Homo sapiens: one gene and its partners. The protein of the gene in region 2 purifies or fractionates together with the protein of the main gene of each other region. This does not show direct contact. Each region holds a gene or a part of one and is shown on either strand. Other genes may lie near its edges.

Region 1 (7,457 bases), on a different chromosome or scaffold from region 2:
TAGAGAGAGAGAGACCGGTTCGTTATTTGGGAGAGTAGTGGAGAGGTTCTTTATGCTACCTTATACCTCTAATAAAGCTAGTCCTTGAAAGGAGGCAGTCAAGTGTAGTAGAAAGGTGGTGGGATTTGACATCAGATAAACTTGGTTCAAATCCCAACTCTGCCATTTATTAGCTTTATGACTATGGATAAATTATATTAAGCCTGTGAGTCTCAGTTGCCTTACCTGTAAAATAGGGATAATATCACCATTCTCTTAAATTATTGTGAGGATTACATTAAATGAAATATAATGCCAACACTGGGCACAATGCACCTAGGAAGCACTCAGTAAGTTACAGTTATAATGACCAGGGTACCTAAGAGGTGTGGCCGGAGCACAGGTTCTGTAGCCAGCCTGGCTATGATCCTCAACTTAATGGCTTGTGTGACCCTAAACGAGTTACTTAACTTTGCTGTGGCTTAGTTTCCTCATCTGCCAAATGGAGATAATAATAGTAACTATATCATAGATTTGTTGTCAGGATTAAATGAGTTACATGTGTAAAGCACACAGAACAGTGCCTGCCACTGAGGAGGCACCCCATAACTGTTAGCTTTGAACAAAAAAATTAAACGTGGCATGAGTTGGGATAGCACGATATTAAAATTTGGGAATATGCTCCATTCTTCCCCTTCTTTTTCTAATGGGTAGCAAAATTGTACCTTGTACCGCTTTTAGAGATACCTGTCGGGCTCCGGGAAACATCTAATTTCTACTGTGTTATATAGATTCTCATTTCCAAGCCTTCTTGCTTCATTCACTGACCTTTGTTATCTTGGAGAGAGGAAATATGTATCTATCCCAGAAAGAATGAAACTTGTCTGTTTGTCAAGGGCATGACACAGCATAGGTCTCAGCATAGGCAAGTTTTTTTGTTTGTTTGTTTGTTTAATGGGAGGAGCAGTTGTTTTTCTCTCCTCTCAATGCACCTGTTAACATTTATTGAGTGCCTGCTATGTACTATGTATTATCCCAAGCATTTTCACATTTCGTATGTCATCTTATATTAATTCCTCTTATATTAATCCTCTTATATTAAAACTTATGAGGGAGATGGAAGTATTCTATATACAGGCTCAAGGTCACATAGCTAAGAAATGGCAGACCTGGTCTTCAGATTCCATATCCAGGGATCTTTTTGCAGGGCTATGTTGCCTTTACCCTGTCTCTTCTGTGTTTTTGAGCACAGAAAAAGTTTCTTTTTCAGGAGTGGTATACTACGGTTATTCCTCAATATCCAAAGGGGATTGCTTCCAGGATCTCCTGTGGATACCAGAATCTGTGGATACCAAAATCTTCTAATGCTTTAGTCCCTGATAGAAAACACCATAGTATTTGCATATAATCTGGGCACACCCTCCATTTTTTTGAGATGGAGTTTTGCTCTTGTTGCCCCAGGCTGGAGTGCAATGGCGCGATCTCGGCTTATCATAACCTCTGCCTCCTGGGTTCGAATGATTCTCCTGCTTCAGCCTCCTGAGAAGCTGGGATTACAGGCATGCATCACCATGCGCGGCTAATTTTGTATCTTTAGTAGAGACGGGGTTTCACCATGTTGGTCAGGCTGGTCTCGAATTTCCGACCTCAGGTGATCTGCCCGCCTCGGCCTCCCAAAGTGCTGGGATTATAGGCGTGAGCCACTGAGCCTGGCTGGGCATATCCTCCTATATACATTTTTTTTTTTTTTTTGAGACAGAGTCTCATTCTGCCGCCCAGGCTGGAGTGCAGTGGCTTGATGTCGCCTAACTGCAGCCTCCGCCTCCCAGGTTCAAGCGATTCTCCTGCCTCAGCTTCCTGAGTAGCTGGGACTACAGATGTGTGCCACCATGCCTGGCTAATTTTTGTATTTTTAGTGGAGACAGGATTTCACCATGTTGGCCGGGCTGGTCATGAACTCCTGACCTCAAGTGATCCACTCACCTGGGCCTCCCAAAGTGCTCTGATTACAGGCATGAGCCACTATGCCTGGCCTCTCCTATATACTTTAATCTCTAGATTACTTATAATACGTAATACAATGTGAATGGTATACAAATAGTTGTACTGTATTATTTAGGGAATAATGCCAAGAAGAAAAAAAAAAGCCTGCACTTGTTCAACACAGACACACACAAAAAAAAATTTTTTTTTTTTTTTTTCAGATATTTTCAAGCCATTGTTGGTTGAATCCACAGATACAGAATCCTTTGGCTACTGTTGGGTCCTAATCACCTCAACTTTAGTTATAGAATGAACTGTTAATTTGGGGAATTATGTATCATTCCAGTCTAGACTGTTCAAGCTCTTGCTCCCCCACGGGGGCCTGTTCTTTTTTTTTTTTTTTTTTTTTGTGTGTGTGTGTGTGTGTAGAGTTGGGGGTCTCACCATGTTGCCTAGGCTGGTCTTGAACTTCTGGGCCTCAGCCTCCCAAAGTGCTGAGATTACAGGCATGAGGCACAGTGCCCAGCCCTCAGGACTTCTCTAATAACACATTTAGTAGAGAGATTAGTTGCCATCATTATCATGATTATCAACAACAAACTGTGACTAAGGGCCCTGAGGTATGGAGTAGTATCATGATTCTTTACATCGCAGGCTATTTATGTTAGAGGAGCCTCAAAGATAATAGGGCCCAACCCCCTCGTTTAATAGATGACTCATCAACTATGATGATAACCAGAGACGTGGCTTGGTGGCCCTGCAGGCCACCTGGACATATGACTACCCCATACATAGCAAATTCCAGCAGCATTCCAGTTTTGAAGTATGGCAAGTTTTTGGCCAAATGAAAGGTATTTAAGATACAGACAGATAGGTAGGTCTCTAGTAGTAGTCCTCTTAGGAGAAGAAAACAAGACTGCTGGCAGTGAGGTCTTCATTCATGTGCTAGAAGAACCTGATTCATAGAAACCTGATATTGGGACAGTTCTATAAATATAGCCTCTACATTTGAATAGAGTATGTAAATATCCAGGACCATGTAAGAGGACTTTTTGTTTTCTACTTTGGAAGTTGGGCTCTGACTCTTTGATTTCACTCTGTGGGTTCTTGCAGAGAAGCATGTTTAGTGGGCTGTTCCTTTGTTATACTTTGTTCTTATGTCCAGATTATGTTATATAATTTGTTTCTAATTTTTAGTTGTAGAAGCAATCTGTGTTCATGAAACAGCACAACATACACCACGCAATTAGGTTTATTCCCTTGTAGTAGTGCTGTTTGAGTGTATCTTTAGAAATCTATGAAATTATTCCTAGCTCTCTAATAGGTCAATATTTGGCCAGATGCCACACCATAGGTTATTCAACAATAACAGTAGTGGCCATTGAACACTACTGTGTGCAAGGTGCCATGCTTATAAAAAATAAGGAAAATTTGATAGGTAGTAAAGTTGAATAACTTGACCAAGTTTACACTTTTAGTAAACAGTAAGACTGGACTCAAACTCAAGGTTGTCTGACTCCTGATCCTGAGCTTTTTAGAGCTTATTCATGGAGTATGAAACCTGTAGTGAGAGTCCTCATAATAGTCTGGTGTGTCACTGAGCTGTTAGCTTGCTTGATCTCTAAATTGAACAATGGTTTAACTCTTTTTTTTTAAATGGGGTTTTATCGTGTTGCCCTGGCTGGTCTCAAACTCCTGGTCTCAAGCCATCTGTCCACCTCAGCCCCCCAAAGTGTTAGGATTACAGGTGTGAGCCACCATGCCCGGCCAATTTAACTCTTTATATTTGATTTTTTGCTCCTGTTTCTCTGGAAATTAAACATGTAAAGAAGGTGAGATGGCTGACTGTTGGCTAACAGTTCTAGAAATACATGTACAGCTGGAAATGCTTGTTCTCTCTTTCCCCATTTCAGCCTTAGAAAGGGGAGAGAATAAAGATAGGGGTACTGAATAAGTTAAGTATGATCTAAGTTGGATAAAAGAACCCAGGTTTATAGAAGCCAACATCTATTGGATCCAAACACTCTTAGAGGTTTGAGCTTCTGAATAGATTGGCGCATTCCAGATTCAATTTGTAGTGCCTCACAGACCATTATATTTTCTAATTAAGAGCAACAGAATAATTAGACCTTGGTACTATTCTGAATTCCCACCTTAAAAGATTAATTCTACAGAGGAACTGTTTAAAAGACACTTATAACTTACTGAGTGTCTTTCCAAAAGACAATTTATTTTTCTTTCCCCTTACCATTAATGCCAAAAAAAAGTTTAGAAGAAACGTTATATTAACAAGTAGGTACATTTATTCCAGATAATTTATGGAATTAGCATTTTACATATAATGGCAAAAAAATAGGCTTTCTTGGTTTCTTAGTGCGATTATTTTCATTTGTATTGAACCTTTAGGGGCTTTAGTTTACAACTTTAACCTGATATCTGGCACTTTTAAGTCTAATGTTAATTTTCACTAAACCTCAGGTCTATACATTTCTAAGTATAGCCCTCAGATTTACAATCTTTCTTTCCTCTCCTCCTTCTTTCTTTTTCTTGTTCTTTATTATCTATTTAAAAAAAATTTTTATTATGAAAACAATATACCAACAATGAGTCTTCTTTTTAAAAAATTGCTACATAATATTTTGTCAGGTGAATATATTATGTATAATAGAATACTGTCACATGCATAACATTCCGTCAGTCTCCTGTTGGTTATTCCAGTTCTCGCTTTTTTTCTTCCACTATGTTGGATGACACTGCAGTGATACACATATAATTATTCTCTCCTTCTAGATCAGTAGGATAAATTCCTAGGAGTAGGAGTTCTGGGTCAAAGAATATGAATATTTTTATGTCTTCTAATATGTGTTGTTGCCAAATCACTTTCTCTTTTAAGGTTTATGTCAGTTTATACTGCCACCAGGAGTATCATGCCTGGATTATTGATGTCCATTCCTCACAGGGCATTATGTCCTTAGTCTTGCTTTCCTTTAATCTGGCCTGTGAGCTACCGCCCAAAATGTTCTACCAGAATGCTGGTCTCACACCTCCGTCGTAGTCTTCCCCTGGTTGCCTGTCACCTATTTGCCAATTCAGGTGTAAATTTTAAAATCCATGCCCTTACCACCTGAGTTCATTCCTTTTAATTGTTTTGCATCTATATTCGAGGCAGCCTCCCTCCCTCAAATGGCCACTCTCTCCTACCTCTGAGTCTTCCCTCTGATCATTTCTTACATTCAGAACTTCTTTTCTGCCAACATTTCTCTATCTTCTTTAATTTAAAAAATTGCTGCTTCTACAAAGATGTCAACACAGAACCACCTGTGATGATGATATCTTTAGTACTCAGTGTACTTCACTCCTGGTGGGTTGCCAGTAAATATTTGTCAGTGTGGCTAATGAGAGAAAGAAAAAAGAAAAAGTGGAGAGATTTTTGGTGGAGATTTTTGTTTTTTAATAGAAAGGCTTAGAATTCTTAAGAGTACTTGGTTCTCCTGAATAAAACTTCAGAGGAGAATGAGGAATTCTGTGCTCTATTTTTGGGGTACCATTGTTCTTTCTGTGATCATGGGCAAGCCAACTTATTCTGTCTTCTATTCCCCTCTACTTCAGCTACAGAGTAGAAAATATAGTATTGCCAATCATTGCAGAAGAGTCATGACACTCTCTGCCTTTCCAGTTATTTTTTCCTCATAATCATTGGCATCATCATCATTATATCCCTAATATTTACTGAGTATTGCTACTTGCCAGCACTGAGATTGTGCTTTATATACATGCCTTAGCTTTTTTTTAACTGTCACAGTCTCTCTATGAACTAGGTACACCCTGTTTTCAGATGAGAAACTCAGTTCCAGAGAGTTTACTTGCTTAAGGTCACAGCTAGTAGGTGGTGGAGCCACCATGATTTAAACTCTTATTCTTATTGAATTACTTTTCTGAAATATCAAACCATCAAGTCTTCCCTATCCACAGTTCTCTGATGATTTCTTATTGCATATGAAAAAGAAAGTATAAACTCAGCAGCATCGGAAGGCCCTTCCAAATCACTGTCCAGTCTACTTTTCCATTCTCTTCTTCCTCCATGCCCCACCCCAAACGTATGTCCTGTGTTCCAGTCTCACAAAGTTGCTTATTTCACAAATATATCATATAGTTTCACACATTCGAGCCTTTGTTTTTGTTCCTGGAATGCATTCCATTTGCCTCTGGCAAACTCCTGTTTATCCCTCACGATCCAACACAAATGCTCTGTATTCTGTGAAAGCCATTCCGGATTTTCCTGGGCAGTTAGTGGCTTGGTTTGCTGTGCTCCTTTGTATATATATCTGCTGTAGTCTTTTCACACTGCTTTATAACTATTTGTTTACATGCCTGTCTCCCTTACTTTAATAAGAATATTGAGATACGGGAAGGCAACATTTTTTACAGGGACATTATTTTAGATGCTATTAAACGTAGCCAAAATTAAAAAATACATGTATTTAAAATGACATTGTTTCCCTTTTTTCCCCCTCAGCATAGGGCTACTTTCAAATTTGAATCAACAGATGAAGATAAAAGAAAGGTAAGCCTTGGTGTTGCTCTGTGAATGTTTATGTGTGTGTGTATTGCATTCATGGACTTTCTAAGCAGTGGTCATGTTTTCATCTGATGGTTATTGATTGGTTTCTTGTTTCCCTTCATTTTGTTTTTTAGGAACCCTGAGAAGAAAGGTTAGGTTAGGTTTAGTTTGGGTTACACGTAACTCTTTCCTCCTTTGTCCTCGCAGGACTATTAACACTTGTATAAATCAGGGGAGTGGGAGGGATTCAGAGGAGTCTCTTCCCAGATCTACTCACTCCCAAAGACTGACTGTTTAGTGGCAAGACTCCAGGTTGCCCAAAATCCATTGCTAATATTACAAAACTTAGCTTGAGGCAAGGTCTCGCTCTATCACCCAGGTTGGAGTGCAGTGGCTCACTGTAACCCCAGACTCCTGGGCTCAGGCAGTCCTCCTGCCTCAGCCTCCCAGTAGCTAGAGCTACAGGCACACACCAGCATGCCCATTTTAAAATTTTTTTGTAGAGACAGGGTCTCATCATGTTGCCCATGCTGGTCTATTGAGCTTCTGGCCTTAAGTGATCCCTCCTGCCTTAACCTCCCAAAGTGCTGGGATTACAGGTGTGAGCTACCATGCCTGGCCCTGCCTTTGTGTCTTGCTGTACTCCGTACATCTATCCCTGGCTATACAAATGCCAGAACCAAACAAGAGAGTATGACTGAATCAGTGTAAATCTATCACTGCTGCTAGAAAAATAGCTTAAATCCAGTATTTTGCTAGTAGTGGGTTGACAGTGCCTTGAAATCATTCCTCCATTCACCTGTATCCCCATACCTAATATCAGTGTCTTGCTCATTTTACGTTTTCAGATTTCTTCCATCCATTTTCTCCTTAACCTCTGCTCTAATTCAGGCCTACATCTGATTACTGCATCAGTTTCCTGACTGTTCTTTCA
Region 2 (7,329 bases):
AGCACCCGCTAATCCCACCCCTGTAGTAACAGCCTGACTCAATAGATGTTGGCCATGCTGAACCCTGGATTTGTTTCTCACTGACTTCCAAGCAGGTGTTTCATCTGCCTAGCAGGCCAGGAGCAAACCAAGGGTGGGTGGAGGCTGAGTCTTCTTCTCTTTCTGTGCCCACTACTGGCTCTGCTTGAACCATCCTAGACAAGCCGCTTCACCTCTCTGGAACTCAGCTTCCTTCTCCATAAAATTGGGGCTATGAGAATTACTTTCAAGATTTAATGAGATAACCTGCATAAATGTGCTTAGCTCAAGGCCTAATACAGGGCAGCTACTATGTAAACATAAACTGCATTACATTCAGATTGCACCTCCCCATCAGTCTGCAAGCTCTCTGAAGACAGGAATTACATCACATTACTCTCAGTGCCCCCCACAGCCCTGATGAGCACAGGGATCTTTCTAAATGTTTGTAGAACAAATGAATCAACTGAGAGAGGAGTAGAAAACCAAGGGTGGTGACTGCAGAGGTCTTACCTTTCGGGCTTTCTTGGCTTTGACCTTGGGCCGAGTATCCTGATTCTCCTGAGACTGGGCAGCTGCACTCTCAGGCTCAGGTTCATCTGCTGGGGCCTGAGAGGGTGCAGCCTCAGTCTCCTGAGCCTTTGTATTGACCTTTGTATCAGCCACATGGCTGACCTTTTTGGTCTCAGTGGCAGGCATTGTCACAGCCTGCGGGTCAGCATTCTGTTTCTTGGTGTCAGCTGCTAGACTCTTGTTTTCAGCTGCCAGAACCTGGGTATCAGTCAGCTGAGTAGTAGATGAGGCCTGGGTGGCAGGTGCCTCCCGAGCCTCTGGGGTCTTTGAGACCTCTGTGGCCTTTGAGACCCCAGAGGCTTTTGAGACCTTCACATCCTCTGAGACCTCCAGTGCCTTTGAGGCCTTCGGTGTCTCTGGGACCTCCACATTCTGGGTCACTGTCAACAGAGTCTGCATCATCGAGCTACTGTCCTTTTCTGAAGCTTCAGCCTGCAAGAGGAAGCAGGGAAGTTCATAGACCTTCTCCTCACCCCCAACTAAGCAAATGGCTCCAAAATTCCAAGGCCACACTTCTCTGACCTGTACTGACTCCTACCTGCGGTGTGCTCTGACCACCTCAGCCCAACAAGGCCTCCCTTTCCTCTGAGCAAGAACTGATGGCAGAAGAGGGGCCCGCCCACCTTCTCTCCCTCCCTCCACTGGGCAGGGGGACACCCAGGCAGGAAAGTAGGTGGAGAAGGACAAGGATGGGAGGGGAAGAGCCAAGGGACTTGGGGGCAGCAACAAGGGCTGGAGAGGAAAAGCAGCTGGGGAAAGGACAGAAAGAGGCCTTACCTGGAAGCGAGTTAGACCTGCACCACTCTCGCTTGTGTCAGACATGTCTCAATTTGGCCTGGCAAGAGCTGAGCCTGAAGGGGAGAAGGCCTGGGTCAAGTTGAAGCCCACTGAACGTCCTCTCCCCTGTTGTGCCTGGAGGCTGATCCTCACCTTCCGTAGGTCCCCAATTCCAACCCCCTCCACCACCCCCAACGACTCCGTTCTCAGATACAGGAATTCAAAGCTTCTAAGTCTCAATTCTCTGCAGCCGCACCCTCCCCTTCTCCAGGAAGATGTGCCAGCGCGGCAGCTCTGAGGACCCCGCCCCTTTTCCCAGTGCACCCCCCACCCAGCCGCAGGTCGATAGAGCGCATGCGCGTCGGCTGCAGGGCCGCTCTCAGCCCCGCCCGCTTTCCCAGCACGAGCCCTTTCTTTGATGTCCACCGTGCACATGCGCATTCAGCAGCTGGCTCTTCTCAGTGCTGGCCCTTCTCAACACGCCCCTTTCTAGCGAAACATAGTGCGCATGCGCAATGGTCGTGGTCTCAGTCTGGCACTCTGCCCCAACACACGCCCCTCTCCAGGTCCGCAGTACCATTCGGTCCCGCCCCCTGCCCAACAAGCCTTCCTCCAAAATTGTCGCAGTGTCTGGTGGACCCGGCCCCTCCCCTACTCACGCCCTACAGAGTCCAGTGTCTCTTGGCCCCGCCCTTCTTCCTAACACGCCCCCCTCCAAACAGGCGCATCTTGGTTCCGCCCCTTCCCTATTACACCCCCTCCTCAAATAAATACTGAGCTAGTGATTCCATCTTGGGCCCGGCCAAACCGGGTCCAGTCCCCTCCCTTCCCAGCCGGATGGATCCGGTACGATCCGGTCCTTAAGGCAGGTTTTCTCCAGATCCCAGAGGGTGGGGCCGACCCCTAGCGGGGCTCTCATCCAAAAGCCGACCCGGCTGCTCACCTCGTCCTCCTACAATTCCCGAGTGCGTCCACTCACTCCAAGCCCCTCCGAAACTCGGAGACTGCCCTCCCCTCTCTAGGCCGGAAGTGGTCCCGCCCCTTTCCGCCTCCCTAGGGGGCCTCCGTCCCAGCCTGTCTGCCCCTCCCCCGCTCCCTGCTCCTCATTCCTTATGCCCCCCTCCGTATTCCCTTAGCCTGGCTCCCTACTCCCTATTCCTACCTCACATTTCCTATTTACTCCAGAATTCCTTCTTCCCATTTCTTACATCCTCCTCCGTGTTACGTTTGCACACCCTGCCCCTCAGTATTCCTTAATCCCTCTCTGCATCCCCGATTCTCTTCTCTGGATCTTCACTCCCCCTCAGTGTTCCCCTCCCTCCTTGTATTCCTCGTCCCCCTCCCAACATTCCTGGTTCCCCGTTTTTCTCCCCTCCTCCCTCCGCTAGTCTCTGCTCCCAGTCTGTACAGCCTACTACTTTCTCAGTCGTCCTCATTGCCTACACCCCACTCCAGGTCACCTCTGCTTCAGCTGCAGTGGTGCAGTAAGAATTGCTCATCTGCCTGGCTATGGGTTCGAGGGGTCTGGAACCACTGTCTGACCTCCATAAAACCCCAATATCAACGCCCCTCACCTTGTCCTCCAGCGAGTTCGGGATGCGTCTGCCTTCTCTAAGTCCCTCTCGAAGTCTCAGCCTCCTGGACTAGAGCTGCAGACAGCCCAACCCAGCCCAGCCCCTTTCCGCAGCCCCCTGCCACCCCCCCTCGCCTTCCTCGGGGGTGGGGCAATGGGGCCCCGCTCAGGGCTGTCTGACGCCAAAGCCCATGTTTATGCCACTGTACCAGGCTCAGTCTGAAGCTCTTCCAACTCAAACCGCCCCCTGAAAGCAAGTCATTCATTGAATTTATTTTTATATCTTCATTTTTTCTTATTACAAAGGTAATATGTTGTTCTTTTGTTGTTGTTGTAAAAATTCAAACAATGCAGTAATATATAACACACCAATGAAAGGCCACTCATCTCCCAGAAATAACCACTATTAACATTTTGCTATCCAGATTTTTTTTCTATTCGTATACTAATTATTCAGGTTCTCTCTCCGACAAATGGTACACTATACATACCTTCTGTTCTGCGACCTGTTTTTTTCCAGTTATATATAAAACATCTTTCCGTTAGTGCACATTTTTCTAAACAGCTGCATGATCTTTTCTTGCATAGATGTCCCATAATTTATTGAACCAGTCCAGTACACATGTACATTTAGATTGCTTGGTGCACTTTTTGTTATTTATGGTATTTTTTGCTAGCTCAAATGCTACAAAAAAGTCTTCCATTTTGATGCAAAATTTGTCAACTTACTCCTAAAAAGTAAATGGATAACATTCCCGCCAGCAATGTCTCTCCTGTACATGTCACATATTACAAATATTTTTCATGTTATTTATGATAATTTTTGCCAAACAAAAATGTTTAATTATTATGTAGTCAAATATATCCATTTTTCCTTCATCACAACTGGATTCTGCTGCTTGCTTAAAGATGCTTTTCACACTCCTATAACAAACCCCGTTTTTTTTTTCAAGCACTTTTGTGGCTTTATTATTTACATTTAGATGTTTGATCATTTCAAAATTTATTTTCTATACGGATTCAGCTTGATTACTCTTCAAAATCATAGTCTCTTACCTCTACATCATGTGCAAACTAATCCATCTTTTCCCTCTCTGCTTTGAAATGGCACCTCTATCACATAATAAATTCACATAACCAATTGGATCTGTTCAAGAGAACAAAATAAGATGTAAAATAATAGGAAATAGACAAATCATCATTAATTACTGAATATATAAATGCAGACCTGGAAAACCCAAGAGCATCAACTAAAAAGTTATTAGAAACCATAATAAAATTCAGCACAACTGTTAGTTGCAGAAATAATATTCAGTGCCTTTCCACATATAAATGTAATTCAAATGGACACAAGTCTTCTGCTTTATGTGGTCACCTTTTACTATGTAAATAACATATAATGAATCCCTGTGTTCCATGGATAATTCAAGATAGACAAACACACAAATTTCTTGCATATTCAAGGCAGGCTTCTGTTTTCCTGTCTTTTCTCTTTCTCTGAATTATTGCTTTCTCCAAGTGTGTGATATCAGTTCACCATGTTCTTGCCTCCTAGATTTTCTCCCTTATCCACACTAGACATAGCCCCTCCTTTTCTTCTACTTCTGGCATCTCAAATTCCCCACCCCTTCCAAATCATGGCAAGTTGGCAAGTTTAGAATGCCAAGATGAGGACTTTGGTGTTGATCCTGAGAGCACCCAGGAGTTACTAAAGAATTCTAGGCAAGGATACAGCATAGGTTTGTGTTTTAGAAAGAACACCTAGCTGCTATATGGAGTGTGGATTAGGTGTTGTCTTGGAAACAGGGAGAGTGCTTATGACTTTTGTAGTCATCTAGGTAAGCAATGATTGTGCTTTGGCCTAGAGTGGTGGCAGATAGTGAGAAGTGATTGAATCGAGGAGATAGTAAAGAAGTAAAAAGTAACTGGACTTGAGTAACTGGATTGTGAAGAGAAGGGCAAGGAGGAGGGGAGTGTCAAAGGGAACTCTTGGCGATCTGATTTGAGAGATTGTGTGAATGGTAACCCCTTTCACTGAGATCAGGAATACTGAAGGAAGAGCGGGTTTGAGGAGCAGGTTAGACAAGAACTGAACATTGCTTTTGAGGCACCTGTGGCATGTCCAGGTGGAAATGTACCACAGGCAGTTGAATATACATATCTGAAGCTCAGAGAAGTGGTCTAGGCTGAGGTTATAGATCTAGGAGTCATCAGTACATAAATAGTTCTTGAATTCCTGAGAAAGGGTAACAGCACCCCGGTGAATGCGTAGTGCTAGAAGAGACATGGGCCCACGGAAGAGCCCTGCAGTCCAACAGCATCTTTGGTATAGGTGGAGGAAAAGAAACTCATGAAAGAGGCTGATAAGGAGTGACCAAAGAGGCAGAGAGAAAAACAGGAGAGGGCCGGGCATGGTGGCTCACACCTGTAATCCCAGCACTTTGGGAGGCTGAGGTGGGCAGATCACCTGAGGTCAGGAGTTCAGGACCAGCCTGGTCAACACGGTGAAACCCCATCTCTACTAAAAATACAAAAATTTAGCTGGGTGTGGTGGACCACACCTGTAGTCTCAGCTACTCGGGAAGCTGAGGCAGGAGAATCGCTTGAACCTGGGAGATAGAGGTTACAGTGAGCCGAGATTGTGCCGCTGCACTCCAGCCTGGGTGATAGAGTGAGACACCATCAAAAAAAACAAACAAACAAACACAAAAAAAAAAACCGGAGAAAGGAGTGTCACAAAAGTAAGGGAAGAGATTGTTTCAAAAGGAGGGAGGAGTCAAGGTCAATAGTGATGAATGGTGCCAAGAATCAAGAAAAGTAAGACCTGAAAAAATGTCTGGGGATTTTGACGATCAAGTGGTGGTCTCTGGTGACCTTGGAAGGAATAGTTTCAGTGCACATGTTTGTGGCATAGCTTGCTAATTGCTTACCCTAGTATTCATCCTCCTCTTCTTCCTTAGTAATAAGTCACCTGATTTTTAGCTAGATACATAGCCTCCCAGAATAAAGGCCATGAGGACTAGGGTCACACTCTAAGGATACTGGATTAGTAAACTAAAAAGAACCTGGATCCGTAACAATTTCATGAAGCCAACGTGAACTGCCTACCTCTGGATTTCTTTTAGGTGAGGCAAATAGATGTATGTCTTATTTAAGCTATTGTTATTTCAGAGTCTATTCCATGCAACAGTTTCCTGATTGCAGTGAGTTGAGATATGAATAGCAGGTGAGGTATACATGACAATGGGTATGGAATGCTTTCCCAAGAAACGCCTGAGCTTGATTTCAAGGCTCTCCCAAAATCCAGCCCTGACTGCTTTTCCAGCCCTTTTCCTGCTGTTTTTCTGAGAGTACTAGATATAGTTGCCTATATTCCACCTAAACAGAACACTTCACTATTACCAGATATGCCCTGCCTTCTCTTGCCTAGGAGCCTTTGTTATGCAATTTTGTCCCCATGGGGAACACCCTCTGCTACAACTACCCTTCTGGTATATCTATGCTCGGTTACAACCTCCAACATTTTAAGTTTCACAATGTTTTAGGTCCCAGTTGTGGTCTTTGGGATCCTGGGGTAATTTAAAGGAATACAGAGTCAGAACGTTAGGAGATATTATTGGATTCAGGAAGTCAGAAGAAATCTCAGTCCAAATCCATCAGAGAGGCATTCCCAAAGATTGTCAAACCCAAACTTCCCCAGACCCCTCTCAATTCCACCACCTTCATAACATAATACCATTAACAACCTTATCTTATGACCTGGGGATCAGAGGATAGGAGGCAGCCTTATCGGGGGAGAAAAGACAAATTAGTTCATAATCTTTACCCTTTGACCAGAGAGATTTCCTCCCACCTTCTCCTTGTGAACTCTTGGAATCTTGATCTTCAGCATTCACCCATAAACTCTGAAGAACCTAGGTCACTGGGTCTCAGGCCCATTTCTAGCACCCATAAATCAGTAGAGAAATATCTGAGACCATATAGATCCTACATATCAACTAAGAGGAAAGATGAAAAGCCGTTATCATCAGGCAGCTCTGTTCTGGAGATAAGGAAAGGCAGGCTAAGGATTGCTTAGTGCAGAATGTAGAGATGGAACTGTCTAGTCCCACAGGCATCCAAGACTCCAGACTCCTGAAGCTCAAATGGAAAGCCCAGAATATCCCCACCACCAATCCTATCCTAGCACATTTACTTTCTCCTAAACTATACAGAATCCGTATCTCTGAATTTTGGAAAATTTGGGAGAGGGTAGCAAAGGTTTCCTTTTAAGGCTGCCTGTCATTTCTTTAGTCATTTAAACCATGCAGCTCAGCATAGAAATCAACTTTAAATTGGACATCAGACTTTCTTGTTCTTCAGATTTCCATAACCATTCCCACCACTGG
Region 3 (7,577 bases), on a different chromosome or scaffold from region 2:
TTTACTATCTACCTACTGATAAGGGTTTTCCATTACTATATGCTCAAAGACAAACCTTACAACTATAGTTTCGGGAGGCATAAATTTGCTTACCTCAGGAGGTCCCACAAAAATTCAGCTGAGGCCAGGTAACAGCAGTTTCCTGCAGAGATCAGCTACTTCCTATCACCATAGTGGTCGAAGAATCAAACGAAGTAATATCAGATTTCTACTCTGGAAGCCTAAAACACTTTTCCCTTTAAGCAAAAAAGCAAGCATTCCTTAGCTAGCAATCTCAGGCCAAACTCCCAACAAGCTCATCTCTGCTGTCTTATTCAAATATAAACCATCATGGTTTCAAGCAGTAACAGCACTCGCCTATTTCACACAGCTGACGCCTCTTAGGCCGTCAGGAATTTAAATCACCTTCTTGCCCACAAAGTATTTTTCTTCCAAAACAAACTGAAAAATATAGGCTCTTTGGCAACATTTTTGGAAGTACAACATAAACTTATCACAATAATTTTTAAACTGCAGACAACTAAAGGGAAGGAAGAAAAGCACTACTATATATACATACATATTTGAGGTCACCTCCTCCTGATGCTAGAGACTATCAACTGCTCAAAAGAAGGAAAACAAAATAAAGATTTCAGTCCCCACACTTAGCTGCGAATAGCTAACAAAGGGAATTAACATGCGGTCAATAACAAGAGGCTACTAAAAACTCTGACAGGTTAGGAAGTTTTCATTTCAGTTTCAAATTCAAATTCATACTGTAAAGTGGTGATGAACACATCCCATCCGCAGGTACTTAACCTCCATACAAATAAGAACTACCTCTCATATGGGCAAAAAGATCAAAATTCTACAGAAGAATCTGATGGCTAAATGGCTAATTTGCAAAACACAATGCCCTGTACATTTTGAGGACATCCTAAAACATGTGTAAACTTTTCAGAATTCAGTTTACCAAAGTTATCAAACTTAAAAATGATTAAAATTTATTTGCTACTGCAAAGAATTCAACCAATTTCTCCAATGACTACTCCATATTCATTTTGAAAAACAGTACCGGATTTAAAGCTTACACAACAAAATTCACAAAAGTGTTATATGTGCCTATATGACATATAGGCACAAATAACTGCAGACATTCTGAAGCTAACACTGCTCAACCAGGAAAAAAAAAAGACTGCAATTGGATATGTAATAACAGCTATTTAAGACGGCAGTAACGTGTTAAAATGGTTCATAAAAATCACATCATAAGGCCCTGAAATTCTAGTAAAAATATCTCTAAGTAAACTTGTGAACTACTACTAAATAACTAATTTTCTCTCTCTCTGTAGTCACTCATTTTATCTTTGGATTACTTTCCCATTCTATCACCACGTTGCTTTCTCTGAACTTCATTTTACATTTGCATATTATTTATTCCATTAGCAATTGCTCATCCCAGTCTGAATCTCAAAATTCTACTATAGGAGGCATTTGGCATTCTGTGGAATAAGAGAATTTTGAGATGGAAATGATCAACCAGCTCAAAACCTCGTAAGCTAGAGTTCAGTTAAGCTTAGCACAATGATGAAAACAATTTCTCATTAAAACTTCTTTCATTCCCTCTACAGAAGCAGTAACCCTGGGTACAGTTAAAACTGCCTGGGTCTTTAAGCTTTGTCACCTCGGACAAGTCATTATACCTAACCTCCCAGGGCCTCAGCTTCCAGAGTAGTTAAATGGAAAAACAATAGCATCTATCTCAGGTTATTAGATTATGAAATGAGTTAACACACGCAAACAGGCTGAAAGAGTCCCTGGTGCGCAGTGCAGGTATTAGTCATTTAGAGGTATAGTTACTATTACAGGAAGGTAGTAACTTAGAAAGACTTACCTTTAAGGTCCAACAACCTAATCTACATATTTGTATATTTCTAAGGTAAGAGAATTTTTAAAAGTCTATTTTCACCCCGTAAACCTAATGCAGGAGGATAAGGCACGGGTTACTACAGGAAAAAGTAATGCAGACTGGGGGATGCGAACCAAAGCACAGACGAATGTGCCCCGACGATTCCTCCGAGAACATAATGAAATGGCGGACCTTCCTGCCAGAGGAGCGCACAGTCACCCAGGCAGGTGATGTGACACACACGTTAGGGTCTAAAGGTCCCAAGGCTGGAGTCCCCTTTACTGGACCCTAAACATGTCTGCCTCCTGCCCCGCAATCAGACTTAGAGAACTGTGGACGGTGGAAAGTCTTATCATGACCAGGCCATCCTTCGCTGGGGTGAACGGAAAGCATTCAGAAGGGGAAAATTGAAAACAACAAAGACTCTGGTCAGGTCAAAAAATACAAATGTGACCTCTTCCACCATCTCTGAACTGAAAGAAAAGCATGGCACTTTCCCATCCATAACATGTACAATTTTTTTTTTTGGAGATTTTGCTTTTCCCTTGTGAAAGACGGTTTTAAATAGTAAACAGACTTGCTGCCCACCTTGGCTGGGAAACCAAGTCCCGTGAGTAACTAGTCTAAGGCCACTCAGGCCAGTCCTCGGGGAGCGCACGCCGCCCAGCTCGCTCCCACCGCACAGCTCCCAACAGCTAAGAAGCAACGCCAAGGACTTTCTTCCCCGTCAGACATGCCCTCGGCCACACCAAACTGACATCAAAACCCCAGTTAGCCCAGCCTGACCCCACAGAGGCTCACGATGACAACCGCCCTACGGAAAAACTCAAATTCCTAAACATCTAATAAAGAAGTCCTGGACGTCTCCACCTTAAAAACGGGAAGCCTGAACGCTCCGGCGCGCCCGGCCGTGTAACCGCCACAGCCCCCGCACGCGGGGCGGGCTGGGCTAGCGGGAGATTTGAGCGGCCGCCGCCTCTCGCCGTCTTCGCCTCCTCCAAGGGGCCGCCGCCCAGGAGGCCGCCCGCGGCGCAGAACAAAGCGCCTTGACCTTCAGTGAGGCGGGCAGCCGGGCGAGGCGCGCCGGGAGTTGGGAGGGGCCTCCCGCCAGCGCCCCAGGCCCGGGCTCCAGGCCCCAAGCCCCAGGCCCCGCCGCGGCCGCCGCTGCCTGCCCCGACCAGAACGCGGCCCCGCCCCTGCCCCACCGCCCCGAGGCTTCCAGAGATGGCCGCCGCCGCGCCCGCGCCGGACCCGCGGCCCCACCCGCCCGTCCGGGCCCGGCCGCCCTCCCCAGCGCGCCGTTACCGGCCCAGCACCCGTGTCTCCGCACCTCACGCCTCCTGCGGCAGTGGCGGCGACCCTAGCTTCGCTCGCTTTGGGGCTGCGCCGCCGTGGCCTCCAACAACGCCGGCTCCCATTGGCCGAGGCTCCTAGCTCCTCTCTCCGCGAGCAAGACAGGCTGCGATTCGCCGAGCGCGGCGCAAGTCAACTGCGCTTCGCGCCGCAGTCAGCAACCAATCACAAGCCTCCGAAGAAACGCCGCGCCATATGCAAATATTCCTCCGCGCGGCGCGCGCCCTGCGTTCCTCCGCCTCTTTAAATGGGGCGGGGCAAGGTGGAGACCGCGTGTGTGGTTCCGGGGGGTCCCGGGTCCCCGCTCCCGGGACCTTCCCCGGGTGGCACCACATCCTCGCGGGACACTGGGCACCACCCCTCTCCGTGGGCCCCGGCCCCAGCCGTCTTTATCTCCTGCGCCCTCCCAGTTCCCTAGTTCAATCCCGTCCGCGGCGGGTCGGTGCCTCCAGCACTCCGTGCGCCCGCTGATGTGAGAACCCCACCTCCCATGTCGTCCCCTCGCGCTACTCCTTGAGAACATCGCGGAGGGCCCCTCCGCCTGGGAGCCGTTTTCAACCAGCCCCGTTAGTGGTTGGGACGTAAGCCTAACCCCCGCTCATCCCCCAGGTCCCAGGTTGGAGAACACTTCCTCTGCGAAGAGGTCGGGGCTGGGTCACCTCCGCGGACAGGACGGGACTAGCCACTGCCTGCATCTCTTCCCCCACGCCCTGAGCCCCGCAGTGTCCCAGCAGCCTAGTTCTGGCCTGCGGGAGACCCTGTCGGACAAGGAGGAAAAGCAGTGCGCACTGGGCCCTCAGATCAGCCCCCTGAAGCAGAGCAGGGCAGAGGGCTGGGGAGGAGCTGGCCTGTTTCGCCCGCCCTGTTCTCCCTCTCATGGTGCCCTCTGGGCTGGGGTGAAGGTACCAGCCCCAGCCTGTGCACATCACATTTTGTAGAAAGGCATCCAATTTGATTGGAAAATAACCCCTACGCTGGGACTTTTGAGGCTGGTTCATTTCCATGTTCAACCGTGCCATTGGGGGTCTTCAAGTCTAATGTGCATTTTTTTCAGAAACGTTCTCTTTTGGGATGACGTTACTTTTGAAACAATTGCTAATTATTATTATTATTAGCAAGTTATTCCTGTAATGGGGAAAATTTGAAACCATTTAAAGGCTCCTGGTTGAGGGATTAAGAACATAGCGTCGGTTATAAACCTCAGAGGTAAGCTGGGAGGCTGAGGCAGGAGGATTCCTTGAGCCCAGAAATTCAAGTCCAGCCTGGGCAACATAGTGAAACCTCATCTCTAAAAAGAAATTAATGCGGAGCGCCGTGGCTCAGGCCTGTAAACCCAGCACTCTGGGAGGCAGAGGCAACAAGTCCAGCCTGGGCAACATAGAGCACCCTTCCCCTGCTCCAAAAACAACAACAACAAAAAATTACCCAGGCGTGGTGGCTCAGGCCTGTAATACCAGCTACTTGGGAGGCTGAGGTGGGAGAATTACCTGAGCCCGTGAGGTCAAGGCTGCAGTGAGCAGAGATTGGGCCACTGCACTCCAGCCTGGGTAACCAGAGGGGGACATTGTCTCAAAAAGACAAAAAAAAGGCCGGGCGCGGTGGCTCAAGCCTGTAATCCCAGCACTTTGGGAGGCCGAGGTGGGCCGATCACGATGTCAGGAGATCGAGACCATCCTGGCTAACACGGTGAAACCCCGTCTCTACTAAAAATACAAAAAAATTAGCCGTGCATTGTGGCGGACGCCCTAGTCCCAGCTACTCGGGAGGCTGAGGCAGGAGAATGGCGTGAACCCGGGAGGCGGAGCTTACAGTGTGAGCCGAGATCGCACCACTGCACTCCAGCCTGGGCGACAGAGCGAGACTCCATCTCAAAAAATAAAAAATAAAAAAAAAACTAATTAAAACAAAAAACATAAAAACCCCTCAGAGGTGACCGGTGCATGGCTGAGGCCTGACCCACACAGCGTGCTCAGTCCTGTCTGGCCATCTGTGTTTTAGGAGAGGGTGTGTGTGCTCTCAATTCCTATTTTACTTATTTAGACTTTCAGACTTTTCTACAAAGGTCATGCTTTATGCTTTGCGGAAGCATAAACAATGATAGAAATGACACAAGAACCTGGGCATTTGAAGTTTGGAGGGTCCTTCCTCCCATCTAATAAAGTCTCAAGACCATTTGCAGTAATGGGATCCCCCTGCTCCTGGATGTTGGGGTTGGTGGGGGTGGCATCCGGGTGGGTGGATCCTCTGAGGGAGCTGGGCCTTGGGGCTGGGGGCAGCTGGACCTGCTCCCTGGGAGATCTGCTGGAACTGGAATGATTGTGGTGGTGGTGTTTTTCTCTTGGTGGTTGGTGGTTTCTCTCCTTGGAAGATTCTCATTTGGAAATAGAGTCTTCACAGATGCAATTAGGTAATGAGGTCGAGTGGGCAGATTGCTTGAGCCCAAGAGTTCGAGACCAGCCTGGGCAACATGATGAGATCCCATCTCTACCAAATATCTAAAAATTAGCTAGGCATGGTGGTGCATCTATAGTCCCAGCTGCTTGAGAGGCTGAGGTGGGAGGATCACTTGTGCCTGGGATTTAGAGGCTGCAGTGAGCTGTGATCATGCCACTGCACTCCAGCCTGGGTGACAGAGCAAGACCAAGACCCTGTGTCAAAACAAAGAAGTCCCCAGATGACACTGACATGCAGCCAGAGCTGAGGGCCACTGGGATCAGGACTCCCAGGGTAGCTGGCGCTTGGTGAGTTTCATTCCTGTTTTCCCAGCGCTGCCTCTGCCAGGCCTCAGGCATGAGCCCACCTGTCTACAACCCCTCTGCTGCCTCAGCCTCCTCCAACCTGGAGATCAAGAGTCCCCTCCAGAGGCTACCTTGCCTGTAGTTCTGCTCTTGGCTGCCTTGTCCTCACTGAGGCTCCGGGAGACAGTCCCGGACAGACACCACGTGTTTCTTCTTCACATTGCCAGCACCCGGAAAAGTGCCTGGCACTTGGCGAGCTGTGCCCTTACCTGGGCGCTACTGACAATGGCTACACCTTGGCCTGGAAGTAGAGGCAGCAATCACTGCCCCATTCAACAGAGGAGAAAACAGAGAAACCCCTCTAACGCCCCCAGCTAAGTGGCTCTGGCCCTGGAGGGGGCGGCCATGCCCTTCACCTGTGGTGGGGGCGCTACTCCTCAAAAGACCTCGCAGCCGCCAAGAGCTGGAGCCGAGGCCTCAGAAATGCCCAAAGCCCCCTCAGTAGGCTGGGGGCTCAGCCTGTGGGGCATTAACAAAGTGGGGCCCTGGAGACATCCAAGAGAGGTGGCTGGTTTCTCCTGGTATATGGAGAACAGAAAACACCCATGGCGTACTCCACACAAGAGGGGTGCGCAGACAGGGAGTGCCTTTGCAAGCTTCCCGGCCTCAGAAAGAAGGCATCTGGAAGACTGTACCCCAAATGTTGTAGGGATTTGAGAGGTAGGGCACGGGGTCTTTCAGTTTCTACTTTATATTGGAAGTTTTCCGTATTATTTATTTTTAAATAATGAATACATGACGTTTTTATAGTAAAGACACCAAAGATTGCTCTTTGGGGAAAAACAGGAAGATGTAAATCTGGCTCTTACAGCTGAACAGAGCTTTCATGTACAGAAAAGAAACACTTTCCACAGGCAAACTAATATTATACAAGAAAAGTGTCCACCCCACGTTGTTCCAGAAGGATCTGCTGCAGCCTGACAGCAAGAGATTGCAGGGTAGGGAGGTGCTGGGGTCCTCTTGGGGGCCAAGCCAATGGCCTGGGCCCAGCCAGCCTATTGTCACTGCAGGCCCTCGGACCCAGCCTGGGGAGACTGGAGGAAGTCAGGGAAGGGCAGAGAGAAGGCGCACCGGGCAGTGGGCCCTCAGAACGGGGAAACTCCAGGCAGAAAAGCGGCCCAGAATCACTCTGAATTGGGGGGCGTGAAACAGGGGCCACAGCCTGGCCCTACTGCAGTCCAGGTGGAGCCAGGCCTTCACCAGCTGTGGGGACCAGGCGTGCCCCTGGCAATCTGGATACGTTTTTGTGCAGCCACCACTGGAAATGGGGCACACGCCACTCCTTCTTGCCTCCTTGGATGGCACCGCGGCTTTGGGCCAACCTCCGCTCACCCCAGTGGTGGCAGCTAAAGACAAGGGTATTTCCTCATGGCCCAGTTGTCAGGATATTTGATACATGGTTTCCAGCACAGGCCAGTAAAGAGGATACACTGTGGAAGGGATTGCTGCTGCTGCAGTGCCGGCTGCACTTCATCAGTTTCCTTGGCTAAAGGATACTGAGTTACAGGTTTCAGGCTACTTTGTATCTCATTAAAGAC

Evidence for each region.
Region 1: the proteins of MAGED2 (region 2) and RIC8B purify together in Homo sapiens (co-immunoprecipitation; 3 studies listed by BioGRID and IntAct, with this or other methods). This does not show direct contact.
Region 3: the proteins of MAGED2 (region 2) and NAP1L4 purify together in Homo sapiens (affinity purification with mass spectrometry; 4 studies listed by BioGRID and IntAct, with this or other methods). This does not show direct contact.

Annotation. Positions count from the first base shown.
Region 1 is NC_000012.12:106,777,519-106,784,975, forward strand, and holds part of RIC8B (chaperone Ric-8B), read left to right. Parts: intron 1-6,478; coding exon 6,479-6,526; intron 6,527-7,457.
Region 2 is NC_000023.11:54,803,416-54,810,744, reverse strand, and holds the start of MAGED2 (melanoma-associated antigen D2), read right to left. Parts: upstream 3,001-7,329; 5' UTR 2,943-3,000; intron 2,400-2,942; exon of another isoform or gene 2,312-2,399; intron 1,665-2,311; exon of another isoform or gene 1,522-1,664; intron 1,443-1,521; 5' UTR 1,414-1,442; coding exon 1,369-1,413; intron 1,024-1,368; coding exon 532-1,023; intron 1-531. UniProt on the Homo sapiens protein: Regulates the expression, localization to the plasma membrane and function of the sodium chloride cotransporters SLC12A1 and SLC12A3, two key components of salt reabsorption in the distal renal tubule.
Region 3 is NC_000011.10:2,989,036-2,996,612, forward strand, and holds the start of NAP1L4 (nucleosome assembly protein 1-like 4), read right to left. Parts: upstream 3,295-7,577; 5' UTR 3,219-3,294; exon of another isoform or gene 3,194-3,218; intron 3,073-3,193; exon of another isoform or gene 2,759-3,072; intron 2,757-2,758; exon of another isoform or gene 2,477-2,756; intron 2,069-2,476; exon of another isoform or gene 1,874-2,068; intron 237-1,873; exon of another isoform or gene 94-236; intron 1-93. UniProt on the Homo sapiens protein: Acts as a histone chaperone in nucleosome assembly.